Regions from separate parts of the Homo sapiens genome. Here region 1 is linked to region 2. The links come from fine-mapping of genetic effects on gene expression. Tissue or cell type: whole blood. Region 2 holds a variant in brackets; the other region holds the start of a gene. All regions are shown on one strand. Distances are between the middles of the regions.

Region 1 (8,104 bases), 46 kb before region 2:
CCTGGCTGCAGGTAGGAATCACCTGTATTCTCCCAGATCCCACTCCAGACCTCTTGAATTAGACTCTCCAGGGCTGGGGCCTGAAGATTCCTATGCTTAAAAAGCTCTTTCTCGTCCTTCCTACACTGAATTTCCTCATGGTTCGAGGACTCAGAATTCAAACTAGTACAGCTAATGCCGCGGTTCAGCTGCATCAAGAGTTTAACACAGTGACAACTTGTCTCTACAAAAAGTCAAAAAATAAGGCAGGAGGATTGCTTGATCTCAGGAGGTCAAGGCTGCGGTGAGGCGTGATGGTGCCATTGCACTCCCACTTGAGTGACAGAGTGAGACCCTGCCTCAACAAAACAAAACAAAACAAAAAAAGAGTTGAACAGATCTGAAGGCTAGTTTGAAGGCCAACTACCATTTTCAGTGTAGTCTCTCTAGGGTGATGTGTTGGAAGTGCCCAACAAACAATTTAAAAGAGAAGTCTGAGGATGTGGTCCACAGATTTTTTTTTGTGGAAACTGACCACACAGAACTTTTGAACAAAATGCCTTCATTTGTTCCTAAAATTTGTTATTGTGTCTTTACTATATGAAATTAAACAAATGCTGGCTGGGCATGGTGGCTCATGCCTGTAATCCCAGCACTTTGGGAGGCTGGGGCAGGTGGATCACCCGGGGTCAGGAGTTCGAGACCAGCCTGTCCAACATGGCGAAACCCCGTCTCTACTAAAAATACAAAAATTAGCCAGGTGTAGTGGTGCACGCCTGTAATCCCAGCTTCTCGGGAGGCTGAGGCAGGAGAATTGCTTGAATCTGGGAGGCGGAGATTGCAGTGAGCTGAGATCATGCCACTGTACTCTAGCCTGGGCGACAGACTGAGACGCCGTCTCAAAAATAAATAAATAAATAAAAGTAAACAAATGCTGAATTGAATCGCTAAGTTCAAGTGTCAGTTCTTATAAACAAGGTGAAGTACCAGTTGGGTTTTTTGTTTGTTTGTTTGTTTGTTTTTGGAGACAGAGTTTTACTCCGTTACCCAGGCTGGAGTGCAGCGGTGTGATCTCGGCTCACTGCAACTGCTGCCTCCCAGGTTCAAGTGATCCTCCTGCCTCAGTCTCCTGAGTAGCTGGGACTACAGGAGCACGCCACCACACACAGCTGTTTTTTTTGTATTTTTAGTAGAGACGGGGTCTTACCATGTTGGTCAGGCTGGTCTCGAACTCCTGACCTCAGGTGATCCACCAGCCTTAGCCTCCCAAAGTGCTGGGATTACAGGGGTGAGCCACTGCACCCGGCCCCAGTTGGTTTTTTTTTGTTTTTTTTTTTTTTGCTTTTTTTTTGAGACAAGGTCTCTATCATCCAGGCTGTGTTGCAGTGGTACCATTATAGCTCACTGCAGCCTTGACCTCCTGGGTGCAAGTGATCCTCCTGCCTCAGCGTCCTGAATAGCTAGGACTACAGGTGTGAGTCACTATGCCCGGCCAATTTTTAAATTTTTTGTAAAGATGGGGTCTCATTATGTCAACCAGGCTGGTCTCGAACTCCTGACTTCAAGCGACCCTCCCTCCTCTGCCTCCCAAAGTGCTGGGATTATAGGCATGGGCCACCATGACTGGCCAAAGTACCAGGTTTTTATGGGCAGTAAAACTTTAGCCCAAACTGTCAATTAACTCAATTTTTTTTGCCTCCATAAAGAGGCAAATACAAAGAAAATGGGCTTTCAACACAGAGAAAAACAAATTCCAAGATATGGGCTGAGGTCAGTATACACGCTGTCTATTTTCCTCTACCTTCTGGTTCTTCATCCCACCTCTGTACTATGATATTGATGCTCTGAGGAAGACCCTGTATCCCAGCAATATTCCTCATCTATAAAATAAAGATTTAATTGTGTTCCTCTAAACCCAAAACACACAGGATGATGTCCAGGGAAGTTAGAGGAACATGTGTCAGCTGAAGAATCAGTGGTATGTTCCCTCTTGTCTACCTCCCCAATTCGCGCTGGCCCACATCCCATTTGGAGTGACCATGTCTATGGAGATAGAGGAGGATATTCTTCCACTTCTAACCTCAAAAGGACACACTGGAGGCATCTAGATTGAGGTTACAGCTATCCTTTGAGGAGCTGTAACAAGAATATTTGGAAGTGGACCAAATCTAGAATAATCAAGTTTGAAAGGACTATGGTTGTCCTTTCTGTTGCTACTGTTGTTATACTGTGTTGATAAATACAAAGTATAGTCATAAAGGTGGGGGATTTAATCATGTTCCAGAATGATACGGCTGTTAAGGCTTTCCAGGTAAGCCAGAGAGTTGAGATAATCCTTATTCAAGTGAGAAACGAATTTGGCCCTCCTTATCTGGAGGAGAGGGTTAGAAGGACGATGGATGGATTTGGGGACATGTAGTAGGACTGAATTCCTAGGCTGAGCTCCAACCACCTCTGAATGCCCCAGAGATATCTATGTTCCATCTGGTCTGGTCTGCAGCAAGTCCACAGAAGCTACATTCACTTTTCTGTGCTGAATTATCAAAATAATTGCCCTTCAGCCCATGCCTCATGACCCTGTAGACAGAATCCACTCATTTCCCTATCACATGGGCTACAATTGCTACTTCAAATGAAAACCTGGGAAGCCAATGCCCTATTGTGGTTGAAAGTGTACAATTAGCTCCTCATGCAGCCTGACCCCACTGATTTTTCTGATGCATGTGACCTGGAGTGTGCCCTTTCTGAGACCGCCAATGTCTTCTCCACAGCTGGAGATGCCCAAAACTGCACGCAGCACTTCCTGTGGGTGTGGCCTTGCATTCTTAGGACTGCAGGGTACCCGCTGCATGCCAAATGATCCCAGGCTCCAGCCACTCACAGATTCACAACGCTTTTAAAAATACAGCAGTGGAGTATGAGCGGCTATGTCAGATATGAGGGTTTTCCACCCCCTCCCTTTTCTTTTAAAATATGATTTTGTAATGGTGGCCTCAAGAAACACTATAATTGGTCAGCCTGGGGTGCGTTTGAAGGCCTTCTCTATCGCGTCATTAGCTATTCTCAGGAAAGGCAGGGTATCCCACTGGGAGAATGACAACACACTTGTTTCAAGTTAGGGAAGAGCCTGTGGTTCTCTTCCTGCGTTCAGGGGAAAGCGAACACACAATGTTCGTTTCCTAAATACGGGATGTGCTGTGCTGGCAGGTCATTTTCCACCATGTCACGTCCTTCTAGATGAAGGCAGCAGGGGTCATGACAGGAAATGGCAAATTCTCAGAATGAGACAAGGCTTTCCCAGGGCAGCCATTGGTTCTCTGGAACTATAAAGCACACTCATCCAGAAACAGCCTCAGATTTTACTTTCCTGGAGGCAGACAGAAGTGAATGGTAAGTGGGGAACCCTGAGGCATATATTCGGGATGACTTTTTCTCATTTTCTCTTTTCACCTGGAAAATTATCCCTGGTGGGTTGGATTATGGAAGCATGGAAGTAAAATTAAGTCCTGTGAATAAGGAGATGAGGATTCTAGACTGGGCTCTGTGAAGAATCAGCTGCTTCTAGAATCTGATGTCTGATGCAGGCAATTCTTCCAGATGAGAATGATTTCTGCCCTGATAGCTCAGTTTTGAAATGCTCTATTTCTATGGCTCATTTGCCACTTTTAAGAAGTTCCTAATAATGAAGAGTACAGTGGACATGAAGGTGGGAATCTGCAACTAGGATGAATATACTTTTCCCCCAAGATGTACAACTTGTTCGTATCTTTGTCAGTCATCTTCAGTTGGCTTCAACGTGGTAGAAGTTGTTGAACAAAAATTTTGGCCACTTTATTTTATTCAACCATTACTCATTTTTAAAAGAAAACTTTCATAACAAAGAGACATAATGGTATTAATTTAATGTGACTTAGTTTAAATCAAGCACCCAGCAAAGACTGATGTTTCTGAAGATCCAAGGAGCCCTAGTTAGAATAAACAGTGCAAATCTCATTTTAGGCTTGATTCTAAGAAAAGAGCCTGGAAGAATCACAAGCAGAAGAGTTGCTTCAGGCAAGCATCTAACTTAGATGTTTCTTCTGCTTGGTAGAAAATACGATTTTTGAGGTTTTGGTGAAGTCTTTTTCATTCATTAGAGAGAGAGAAAAGTGTGTTGCAAAACTCCTAGGATCCAATTTTCACATGATGAAAGGGCTTTGTAAACTGTACAACCCACCACTTACAAAGTGTTATCTTAAGTAGAGCAAAGGCCTCAGTACTGGAGAAGCCTTCTAATACCACGCCCCTCCCAGTTTAAATCTTATTTAACACATAGCTGATGAAGCCCATCGTTAACGTTCCCTGGGAGAGAAGCAGAAGATAGCATTATTCCTATTTCCATATGCAGAGATAAGGTCCTGAGAACTTGTGTGGCTCCCCCCGGATTCCAGAACAGGTCTTTGAGAACTCGTCTCATGATCCACTGGAAACAGACCCGTTCCCCTAGCGTGGCAGTGGCTGCTCCGCTGAACTCGTGCCAAGTTCCCGCTGGCGTCCGGGCAGCAGGGCGGGAGCGGCGGCTGGCACGGAGACTCCAGGCTGACCGCGTGTCTATGTCCCCGCAGGGAATGGAGAGGCCGGCGGCCCGGGAGCCGCATGGGCCCGACGCGCTGCGGCGCTTCCAGGGACTGCTGCTGGACCGCCGAGGCCGGCTGCACGGCCAGGTGCTGCGCCTGCGCGAGGTGGCCCGGCGCCTGGAGCGCCTGCGCAGGCGCTCCCTCGTAGCCAACGTGGCCGGCAGCTCGCTGAGCGCAACGGGCGCCCTCGCCGCCATCGTGGGGCTCTCGCTCAGCCCGGTCACCCTGGGGACCTCGCTGCTGGTGTCGGCCGTGGGGCTGGGGGTGGCCACAGCCGGAGGGGCCGTCACCATCACGTCCGATCTCTCGCTGATCTTCTGCAACTCCCGGGAGCTGCGGAGGGTGCAGGAGATCGCGGCCACCTGCCAGGACCAGATGCGAGAGATCCTGAGCTGCCTCGAGTTTTTCTGCCGCTGGCAGGGCTGCGGGGACCGCCAGCTGCTGCAGTGCGGGAGGAACGCCTCCATCGCCCTGTACAATTCTGTCTACTTCATCGTCTTCTTTGGCTCACGTGGCTTCCTCATCCCCAGGCGGGCGGAGGGGGACACCAAGGTTAGCCAGGCCGTGCTGAAGGCCAAGATTCAGAAACTGGCCGAGAGCCTGGAGTCCTGCACCGGGGCTCTGGACGAACTCAGCGAGCAGCTGGAGTCTCGGGTTCAGCTCTGCACCAAGTCCAGTCGTGGCCACGACCTCAAGATCTCTGCTGACCAGCGTGCAGGGCTGTTTTTCTGAGAACATCCTTTCCCCCTAATGACCGAGGCCAGCAAATCATCCTCATGGGATGCTCCAGAATTTGTAGCTCCCTTAGGAAAACACCAAGCTGGGTTAGGAGCCGAAGGCAAAGGATGAGAAAAACTGTTTTTGAAGTGGGCAGGTCCCCAAAGCCCTTCTTTTCCCATCACTGTGACATCTGCCTGGGCTTGAGTGCTACGGACTTTTCAGTCTTCCTAGTGGAAAAATGTGACCCAAAAACTCTTTTTCCTTTATCAAAAACTTTCTGTCTAAACACAGCTGGGCAGGCACTCCTGTTTTAAAGTTATTTCGGGGTCCCTGACCCTGCCCTGGTGGCTTGGCCTGAGACTGGAGAGAGTGCCATCCTCTGGGTCCTCTCCAAGTCCTACTAGTCTTTGAAGTCCTCAAAATGTGCGTGAGGAAGGCGTTTGCCTCTATTCCAGAATTTCTGATACAAAGAACTCCAGAATCCAGAGCAAATCAGCCCTTCTCTGAACGTTGTAGGATGGTTCAGAACCCAGAGAGGACCCTGGTGCTGATATCTCCTCCTCTTCCCTTTCCCCTCAGCTTACTTACTCCCAGATGCGGCCTGGGTATGAAGTAGGCCTTTCCTGAGTGGCTCCCAATCCAGTCCTCCAAGTACTCAGAGGGGAAGCCCGTGAAGCCGTCATCTAAGTCCTGCTCCCTCACATGAAGCTGAGGGCCAGATAGATGGAGCGACTGCCAACTTCATTTCCCGACATCATTGTGTTCAGAAGAGAGTGATGGGTTTTGAGTTAGACAGTCCTGGGCTTGAGACAGGCTTTGTCACTACTGTGTGAGTGTAGCCACCTAATCTCTCTGAGACTGTGTAAAACAAAGATGATAAAATCTCACCCTGTTGTGAGATATTAAATGAGCCAAAGTGCCTAGCATGATGGTGCTGGCTCATATAGTGTAGTCCCTGGAATGGCAAATTAACATCACCCAGGAACTTGTTAGAAAGGCAAATTCTTGGACACAACCCTCCTGATTTATGGAATCAGAAACTCTGGCTGTGGGGCCCAGCAACCTGAGTTTAAACAATTTCTCTGGGTGGTTCTGCGGCACACTAAGGTTTGAAAATCACTGCAACAAATGCTAACTTCTAATCCCCTTGATGAGCTTTCACGAAGTCTCACGGCTTCTCTAGGGACTCCATGGTCTTCAGAGTCGTTCACAGATGACCAAGGACAGACTGTGTCCCAGAAGCCAAAATGAGAGAGAGAGAGAGAGAGCACGCGTACGTGCACCCTGGGGCAGTGTCTCACCGTATGAACAAGGGATGTAACACTAAAAGCCCATTAGGGGGCAGTGTTTCCCGCCTGTTGTAGAAACTGGTACAGAAAGGAATATGAAGTTCCTGAAACTGACCTTTGTCTATTATTACCTTCTCTGAAAAGTGCCAGTCCATGTATTTTTTATTTATTTTAAGTTTGTAATTTAATTTTTAATTATTGTTTAGTGTTTGCATTTAATTTTATTTAATCACCACATTTAGAAAATAATAAGAGCAAGTTTCTAAATGGGAGACTGCTGAGGCTCTTTGCAAGAGATGAGATTAAGTTTGAGTTTCTAAGGCAGGGCATGAGCTGGAAATAGCATTGCTTTCCTTGATTGTCTCTCTCCTTCAGGGAGATTCTTTTTCTCTAGTGTTTTAAGTGATCCTTTGAAGTAAGTGTGGAGAGTCTTGAATGGCAAGACCAGGAGCTGAGTTTAAGCTTGTAATGGAAGCTTGCATTGTGGGATATATAACTGAGGAAGCATATTTATCCTGAAGGTATTTTGCCAGAAGGTATCACTTGACCTGGAAAAGGAATCTATTTAGTTCAGGAAAGATAAAAAGTTTAGAGGTATGTGAAGGAAGCACTTAGAACTTGCAAGCCTGATGTCCTATCAAGTTATGTCTTCTGGGTGACAGACAAAATCGCTTGTCTTATGGTGGTGATGTGTTGCATTTTCACTTTGGGGTCTGTAAGAAACTGTCAGTGAAAATATGTACAATTCCTTCAATTTCCATTCTTAACAACTGTAATGTTGAAAAATAAGTTGAAAAGTCTTTGGGACCATACATGCAAAAACGGTGCCTCTGTTACTTAATTATTTAATATTCTATAAATGTACCCAATCTGTCCGCACCCTTCCCAGTGATGGGGCAGTATGTCTGAGGAAGTATAATTTCAGTACTGGGGTCGGGGAGAGGAGGTGATGTTTCTACATTTTTATTTTTTCTATAAATTGCAATTGGTCTGTATGCTGGTTTATTTTGAAATTTATATTGGTTTCTTTTCAAGCTGGTGTCATCTCCTAGACTGTTTCACCCAGATGCTAGCATTTTTTTTTTTTTTTTGAGACAGAGTCTCACTCTGTCACCTAGGCTGGAGTTGCAGTGGTTTGATCTCGGCTCACTGCAACCTCCGACTCCTGGGTTCAAGCAATTCTTCTGCCTCAGCCTCCTGAGTAGCTGGGATTACAGATGTGCACCAGCACACCCGGCTAATTTTTTGTATTTTTAGTAGAGACAGGGTTTCGCCATGTTGGCCAGGCTGGTCTTGAACTCCTGGCCTTATGTGATCCGCCCACCTTGGCTTCCCAAAGTGCTGGGATTACAGGCATGAGCCACCTCGCCTGGCCAGATGCTAGCATTTTAGATCAAACAATTCATTTTAGATGAATTGTTTTGTTTCACAATCATTTTAAATCATTTTAGAATGTACTTCACATTATTAGTTGTGTTATGGCATAAAGGTACAACCATT
Region 2 (8,106 bases):
GTGTGACAGGTTGCTATCAAGACACAGTCAAAATGTTTTTAATGCACAAAAATATTAAAAATATGATGTAAAATTACCTTCAGACAATTAAAAATATTGTGTAAAATTACCTTCATATATAAGGTATATATGAAACAAGTGAATTTTGTGTTTAGAGTTGAGCCCCATCCCCAAGATAGCTCATATGTATCTGCAAATATTCTAGAATTAGAAAAAATCTGAAGTCCGAAACACTGCTGGTCCCAAGCATTTCAGATAAGGGATACTCACCCTGTAAGTAGTAGTAACAGTAATAGTGGTGATGAGAAGATTCTAGAGGAAAACCATTGGAAGTGCTGCCTGCTTTCTGGAGTTCTGGTCTGAGGGATGGAGAAACTTTGCCCATAGTTTGTTTTTGGAGTAGCTGAGGTGCACATTTGGTTTTTATTCTGTCCACATGGGATTTTTTTGTTTGTAAAAGTATTACATGTGCATTGGGAAAAAAATTCAAAAAATACAGAAAGGATTAAAGTAGTAAGTGAAAAGGTAAACCATTCCCCACAGAAAACCATTGATAACATTTGGCTATTTTTCTTTCTTTAGCCATAATTAGACTTTATCTAATTATATAGGATTAACATTTTTCTGTTTCAACAAATACAGATTCATGTGATCGTTTCTTAATGGCTACAAAGAATTCCATCATGTGTATGAAATACTTACATTCATGGATGCTTACGCTTTTTTCCAGTTTCTTTCTACTTTGGTACAGTGTTAAACACCCTACTTTGTACAGCTTTGCATATTTACTTCCTTAGAATAAATTCCTAGAAGTACACTTGTTGGGCCAAGGGACATACACAGTTAAAATTTGAATTCATACAGAATGCCAAATTGTCCCCCGCCCCAAGAAAAGCTATAGCAGATTGCACTATAAATGAGAGTATATGTGAATTTTTCTACACCTTGGCCAATACTGGGGATTACCCTTCTCTTAAGTCTTTGCCAATCTGCCATGTGAAAATAAAACCTTACTTTAGTGTTCACGTTTTGATTACTAATAAGGTTAACATCTTTGTATATTTGGAGTTGGGTCTTGTTCCTTTGCTAATGTCAGGCATCAGCAAGTTACTTGATACTTGATCTTAAGGAGAGGGGACTAGAATGAGTAACCTTCAGTGCCAGTAATTCATTTTCAATCCCATCCTCTCTTTTTTTCTTGCAGGAGTTAAGGGAGCATGGAGAAAAGAAGAAACGCTCGCGAGAGGATGCTGGAGATAATGATGACACAGAGGGTGCTATTGGTGTCAGGAACAAGGTGGCTGGAGGAAAAATGAAGAAGCGGAAAGGCCGTTAATCACTTTTATGAAGGCTCGAGTTCTGCTGTTCTGTAAAAGAGAATTGGAGAATGAAACCTGCTCCAACAGAGATCATGAGACTGAAATTGGTCAGAATTGTGTCCAGAATGTGCTCAGCTAATTCAGTATTCTTCCCCATTCTGGGTTGGAGTTTACTGCAGAGTAATTCTTACAGTGCTGATGTCAAGACTGTTACTGTTCTTCGACTTTGATTCCTTGCTCATGACATGAGTAGGGTGTGCTCTTCTGTCACTTCACACAGACCTTTTGCCTTTTTTAGCTGCAAGTCAAGGACTAGGTTGATGATGCCCATGACCTGTAATTGTAAAGAAGCTTGGACATCTGCAAATGATATTTAAACCATCTTGGCTTGTGCTTTATTCAAACTAATGTGAAACAATAAATTTAAATATTATTTTTAAAAGATTCTAACTCCTTAAAGACCTTGGTGTTAAAGGGCCTTATAGATTTAAGTAAGATCTTGTTAATAGGTAAGAACCTGACAGTGTTGATTACATGGCAAATTCATTGGTTGTCCTAATTAAGATAAATATTTATTACTTAAAAAAATCAACAAGGAAACGAGATGATGGATGGCTTTGAAAGGGAAGCCCCAGCCGGGTGTGGTGGCTCACGCCTGTAATCCCAGCACTTTGGGAGGCCAAGATGGGCAGATCAGGAGGTCAGGAGATTGAGACCATCCTTGGTAACACCGTGAAACCCTGTCTCTACTAAAAATACACACACAAAAAAAACATTAGCCTGGCGTGGTGGCGGGCGCCTGTAGTCCCAGCTACTCGGGAGGCTGAGGCAGGGGAATGGTGTGAACCCGGGAGGCAGAGCTTGCAGTGAACCTAGATCGCGCCATTGCACACTCCAGCCTGGGCAACAGCGAGACTCTGTCTCAAAAAAAAAGAGAAGTTCTACTTAAAAAAGGAGGTTGTGTTTTTCTTGCAGATGGAGCAAAGTCTATCAGTAAGACAGCAGAGGTCTTTAAAATCCCTAAATAGATTTACTTCCTTCATTCCCTCAATTAAGCAGGTGGTTAGGAAGACTGGTTTCTCACATAGACTCTTTTTTTTTTTTTTTTGAGATAATCTTGCTCTGTCATCCAGGGTGGAGTGCGGTGGTATGACCTCAGCTCAGTGCAGCCTTGACCTTCCAGGCTCAAGTGATCTCCCACCTCAGCCTCCTGAGTAGCTGGGACTACAGGCACATGCCATCACGCCTGGCTAATTTTTATATTTTTTGTAGAGATGGGATCTTGGCTTGTTACCCAGACTGGCCTTGAACTCCTGAGCTCAAGAGATCCATCTGCCTCGGCCTCCCAAAGTGTTGGGATTACAGGTGTGAGCCACTGCACCCGGCCTCTTTTTTTTTTTTTTTTTTTTTTTTTTTGAGATGGAGTCTTGCTCTGTTGCCAGGCTGGAGTGCAGTGGCACAGTCTTGGCTCACTGCAACCTCTGACTCCCTGGTTCAAGCGATTCTCCTGCCTCAGCCTCCCGAGTAGCTGGGATTACAGGCACTCACCATCATGCCCAGCTAATTTTTGTATTTTTGTAGAGATGGGGTTTTGACATGTTACCCAGACTGGCCTTGAACTCCTGAGCTCAAGAGATCCATCCACCTCAGCCTCCCAAAGTGTTGGGATTACAGGTGTAAGCCACTGTACCTGGCCTCTTTTTTTTGAGACAGAGTCTTGCTCTGTTGCCAGGCTGGAGTGCAGTGGTGCGACCTCAGCTCGCTGCAACCTCCAACTCCCTGGTTCAAACGATTCTCCTGCCTCAACCTCCCAAGTAGCTGGGATTACAGGCACGCACCACCATGCCCAGCTAATTTTTGTATTTTTAGTAGAGACAGGGTTTCATCATGTTGGCCAGGATGGTCTTGAACTCCCAAGCTCAGGTGATCCACCTGTCTCGGCCTCCCAAAGTGCTGGGATTACAGGTGTACGCTGCTGCACCCGGCCACTCTGCCTCTTATGTAGATTCTTTTCCCCAGGTGACAAGAATAAAATCAATATGCCTCAGAAATGTATAATTCTGAGACCTAATTTCATCCACTTGTCATTAGTGCCCACTGGCCACTCATCTTTTTTGTCCTCATCTATTAGGCGATGCAGGAGATGTAGAGCTGGGGCCTCAGCTCCAGGGGAGGAGGTAGGCATTGGCACTCTAGGGGCTGGTTGTTGGGGGAGGGTTACTGAAATTCAGAAACAACTTGGAAATTCCCAATCACAAACAGTCTCATGTTCTGAGGATGTTTACACATAGAAGATGCCTAATACTTTTTGTTGTCTATAACAGTTTTATTAGAAGAGTGTGTCTGGAGTGGCAGAACCAAGGTAAAGAGCGTCTAAATAATCACTTTGATGGATTAAGATTGGAATGAAGTTTGGCTGAAAAGAAACTTTCCTTATCCATCTAAGTCAGAGTATCTGGTGAGGAGTAAAGAGTAGGAGGCAGGCCGGGCGTGGTGGCTGACGCCTGTAATCCCAGCTCTTTGGGAGGCTGAGGAGGGCAGATCACGAGGTTAGATCGAGACCATCCTGGCTAAAACGGTGAAACCCTGTCTACTAAAAATACAAAAAATTAGCCGGGAGTGGTGGCGGGCGCCTGTAGCCCCAGCTACTCGGGAGGCTGAGGCAGGAGAATGGCGTGAACCCGGGAGGCGGAGCTTGCAGTGAGCCGAGATCGCGCCACTGCACTCCAGCCTGGGCGACAGAGAGAGACTCCGTCTCGAAAAAAAAAGAGTACAAGGCAATAAAATTCTCTGTGATGGTCCGGGGTGGACTGTTCACTGCAGGAAGATCTTTGCAAATATCGGGGCGGGGGGTTTTCTACCACAGATGCATTTTAAAATGGGCACCTGTGGGCAAGGCATTAGCAATGAATTGAAATACAGTGCATAACTTACTTTTTGTTTTGTTTGCTCTGAATTTCATTGCTGCTTATTATGGTACCTTTGTGTGAAGGATAATTTAGAGGAGGTAGGAGATACAAGGGAAAGGAAAGGAGAAAGGGGTACCAGAATCGGGAGGCAAATGGTTGAGC[A/G]GGGCCGTACCTGTTCCTATTTGTTATGAGTTGTGCCTCCCACTTGGGGCTAATTCTCCATTAACATTGTGTTTTCTCGATGGGACTCTCCAGGGTGGCTTAGGATAGCAGCTCTCTTCGAGTCAGCCCATGGATGCTGTTTCAGCTCAGTGGAGGACTTCAGAAGCAAGCTGAAATGGAATTGGTGTACCAGTAGGGGGTAAGAAGGAGAGATTGGAATCATCCTCAAGGATGTCTGAACTTTCCAAATAGGCAGTGGTCTCTGGCCTGGGTTTGTGGACCACTGAGGAATATGCATATTTTTGGGGAGACTAAAAAGGTTAAAAACCACTACTCGAAAGCTTAACTGCCATCTCTAATGTATATGCATAATTATGCTTTGCTAGGATGGGAAGAAAGGACACTAGTGAAAGAAATGTGGACGGGTGTGTCTTCAGGTATATTAACAGGTCCAGAGCATGGAGTCCCCAGCAGAAAATGCACAGATGCCATTGCAAAAGGCAGGAGGCGCAGAAATGAACGTGATCCACCAGTAAGTAAAAACAAGACATGTAGGTTTGCTCTATTAGTCAGTCATTCCTGTGCTCTCCTGTCCTCTAAGGTGAGATAGGTCGTGCTGCTGATACCCTTACAGAAGTACGTTTTAATGTCCTAGGACTACTGAAACAAAGTACCAGGAACTGGGTGACTTTCAATAACAACTTTATTCTCTCATGGTCCTGGATTTTAAGATGTTCAAAATTAAGGTGTGGGCAGGGCCATGTTCTCTCTGACACCTTTAGAGAAGAGTCCTTCCTGGCTTCTTAGCCAGCATTGCCCCTTGGTTGCCTGCAGTCCTTGGTGTTTCTTGGCTGTAGCAACATGACTCCGATCCCTGTCTCCATCCACACATGGCCTTCTGCCCCATATATCTTTGTGTCTTCACAAGGCCTTCTTAGAAGGATACTAGTTGTTGGATTTAGGGTGCACCCTAATCCACCCTGGCCTCATCTTAACTAATTACATCTGCGAGGATCCTATTTCCAAATAAGGTCACCTGAGGTTCTGGGTTGATATGGTTTGGCTGTGTCCCCACCCCAATCTCATCTTGAATTGTACTCTCAGAATTCCCACGTGTTGTGGGAGGGACCCGGTGGGAGGTAATTGAATCCTGGAGGCGGTTTCCCCCATACTGTTCTCATGGTAGTGAATTAGTCTCACAAGATCTGATGGTTTTATAAGGGGTTTCCCCTTTTGCTTGGCTCTCATTCTCTCTTCCCTGCCACCGTGTAAGACGTGCCTTTCACCTTACACCATGATTGTGAGGCCTCCCCAGCCACGTGGAACTGTGAATCCATTAAACCTCTTTTTCTTTGTAAATTACCCAGTCTCAGGTATGTCTTTATCAGCAGCATGAAAACAGATTAATACATGGGTAGACATGACTTTTCGTGGGATACTATTCAGCCCAGTACAAGGCATCTTTGTGGACTCTGCTACATTCTGCGGGGTTTAAGGTTGCAATTACGGAATAAAATGGTGGGGAGAACTAGTTACAAAGTGTGGAGAAGACAGGAGATGGGTCTTCAGAAGTATTTGGTTAGGTATTAATAGGAGTATAGAAGAACGTTAAAATGTCATTCTCTTAAATACATGTAAATTGCCTTTGCAGTCAAGATACCAAAAGCTCTAGATTAGGAGTGGGGAACGAGGTCCCTGACCCCTCTGCTATTCCCTTCTTGGTACAACTCCTTAGTTCTGCATTCCTGATTTAAGAAACTGTGAGCTTCGCCGGCCGGGCGCGGTGGCTCACGCCTCTAATCCCAGCACTTTGGGAGGCCGAGGCGGGCGGATCACAAGGTCAGGAGATTGAGACCATCCTGGCTAACACGGTGAAACCCTGTCTCTACTAAAAATACAAAAAAATTAGCCAGGCGTGTTGGCGGGCGCCTGTAGTCCCAGCTGCTGGGGAGGCTGAGGCAGGAGAATGGCGTGAACCCGGAAGGCAGAGCTTGCGGTAAGCCGAGATCGCACCACTGCACTCCAGCGTGGGCGACAGAGCGAGACTCCATCTCAAAAAAAAAAAAAAAGAAACTGTGAGCTTCAAAACAATCTTCTCCCACCCTAATTGTAAACAGATACATCTAACTTTTATGACTTAATAAAGGGAGTATCTTGGAATAGTCATATGATATCAGCCCAGAGAAAATGTCTTCTTATTTCTCATCTGAATTATAAAACTGATTTATATAGTATTCATTGTATGCAGTTGCAGTAACAATGGCTTCATGGTACTGGCTAGCCTAGTTTTACTTCCTCTGTACAGAGCTGAGTGAGGGTGAGAATGAGGAAAACACCTCTCTATCTTATGAAGGGGTCCTAGGATCCTAGTGAGAGGGTTTCAGTTGGATAGGCTATTTCAGGCTTAAAGCAGGCCCAGAATTCCAGGGAACCATGAAGCAGGTTCTCTGAGGGCACTCTGAGGGGATTGTAGTTGCTAAGAGGGGCCTAGACCAACTAGATCATGATTATTCTTTCTCAGTCTCTCAAAAAATGCAATGAATATCCCAGAACTTGGCTGGCTCTTTAAGGACATCTTGCTTACAGACAGAGTGTTTTCCAAGTAGCTTTCTGCCTGCAGAGGCATCCACAAACCTAAATTGGAGACTTTATCTACCTTGGGTCCCTCAAAACCCTGGGAAATAGGACCAGAAAGAACCACAGGCTGTGGTGTTGGTTACAGAAAATGAAAGGATCCAAGTTATCAAAAGTGGGTAACAAAGCAACATCAAGAAACTGTGTCCTTAAAACTAAGAGAATATACAAGACATTCTAATCCACATGGTTCTTAGGGTGAAATCTAGCCTCTGGGCAGGTAAGAAATCAGGGTGTGAGTCACCCCTCTTTAGCTGGAATGACAAGAGACTCAGACCATAACTCTAGAGATTGAAGGGTTACCCACACCCGCATTCCTTTTCATGCCTCACCTATCCCAGGTATGCACTAAAACTACCGCTAAAAATAACTGCAGAAACTTGAAGTCTGGGAAATAGCACTGAACAGTCTCACCTGAAGTGAAGAGCTGATTGGTGCCAAGTGGAAAGGAGACAGGAAGAAAATGGGCTCCTCTGGAACCATGCAGTCTCTAGGAGGTGGGCCCCAAGGTCTGCTCAGAGTCTTGGAGCTTTTGTTTGCTCGTAGCCATCCATCCCCTTATACCATCCAAACACAAAGGATGTCTCCTGTCACTGTCACCCTTCAATCATCTGCCAGTGCCGTCAAAGAGGCCGGAAGGAGCAGGAGGAATTGGGAAAGGAACAGGTGGGGAAAGTGTAAGTCATCGGACTGTTCACTGTTGCTGTGTGACCTTGTGGGAGTTACTAAACCTCTCTGAACCTTGAGTTTTCTCATTTGTTAATATGGAAAGAAGACCGTCAAGCCTATCTCTGTCACAGAATCTTTTTTTTTTTTTTTTTTGAGATGGAGTCTCTGTCACCCAGGCTGAAGTGCAATGGTGCAATCTTGGCTCACTGCAACCTCCACCTCCCAGATTCAAGCAATTCTCCCACCTCAGCCTCCCAAGTAGCTGGAATTACAGGCATGTGCCACCATGCCGGGCTAATTTTTGTATTTTTAATAGAGGCAGGGTGCCATGTTTGTCAGGCTGGTCTCGAACTCCCGACCTCAGGTGATCCATCTGCCTCGGCCTCCCAAAGTTCTAGGATTACAGGTGTGAG

The links. PIP is the estimated chance that this variant, and not a neighbour inherited with it, causes the effect.
Region 1: APOLD1 starts here. The variant in region 2 is fine-mapped to the expression of APOLD1 in whole blood (TOPMed, PIP above 0.99).

The regions. Positions count from the first base shown.
Region 1 is chr12:12,782,326-12,790,429 of GRCh38, forward strand. APOLD1 (apolipoprotein L domain containing 1) reads left to right here and starts at 3,334. Exons shown (of 2, transcript NM_030817.3): 1 at 3,334-3,369; 2 at 4,584-8,104. The coding sequence starts at 3,367. The coding sequence ends at 5,327. RefSeq lists silencers at 4,621-4,720, 4,751-4,860.
Region 2 is chr12:12,828,219-12,836,324 of GRCh38, forward strand. DDX47 (DEAD-box helicase 47) reads left to right here. Exons shown (of 12, transcript NM_016355.4): 12 at 1,205-1,763. The coding sequence ends at 1,336. Among named protein-coding and RNA genes, the nearest start is that of DDX47, 19 kb to the left of the region's middle. RefSeq lists an enhancer at 6,669-7,868. The variant A/G (reference allele first, on the strand shown) is at 4,391.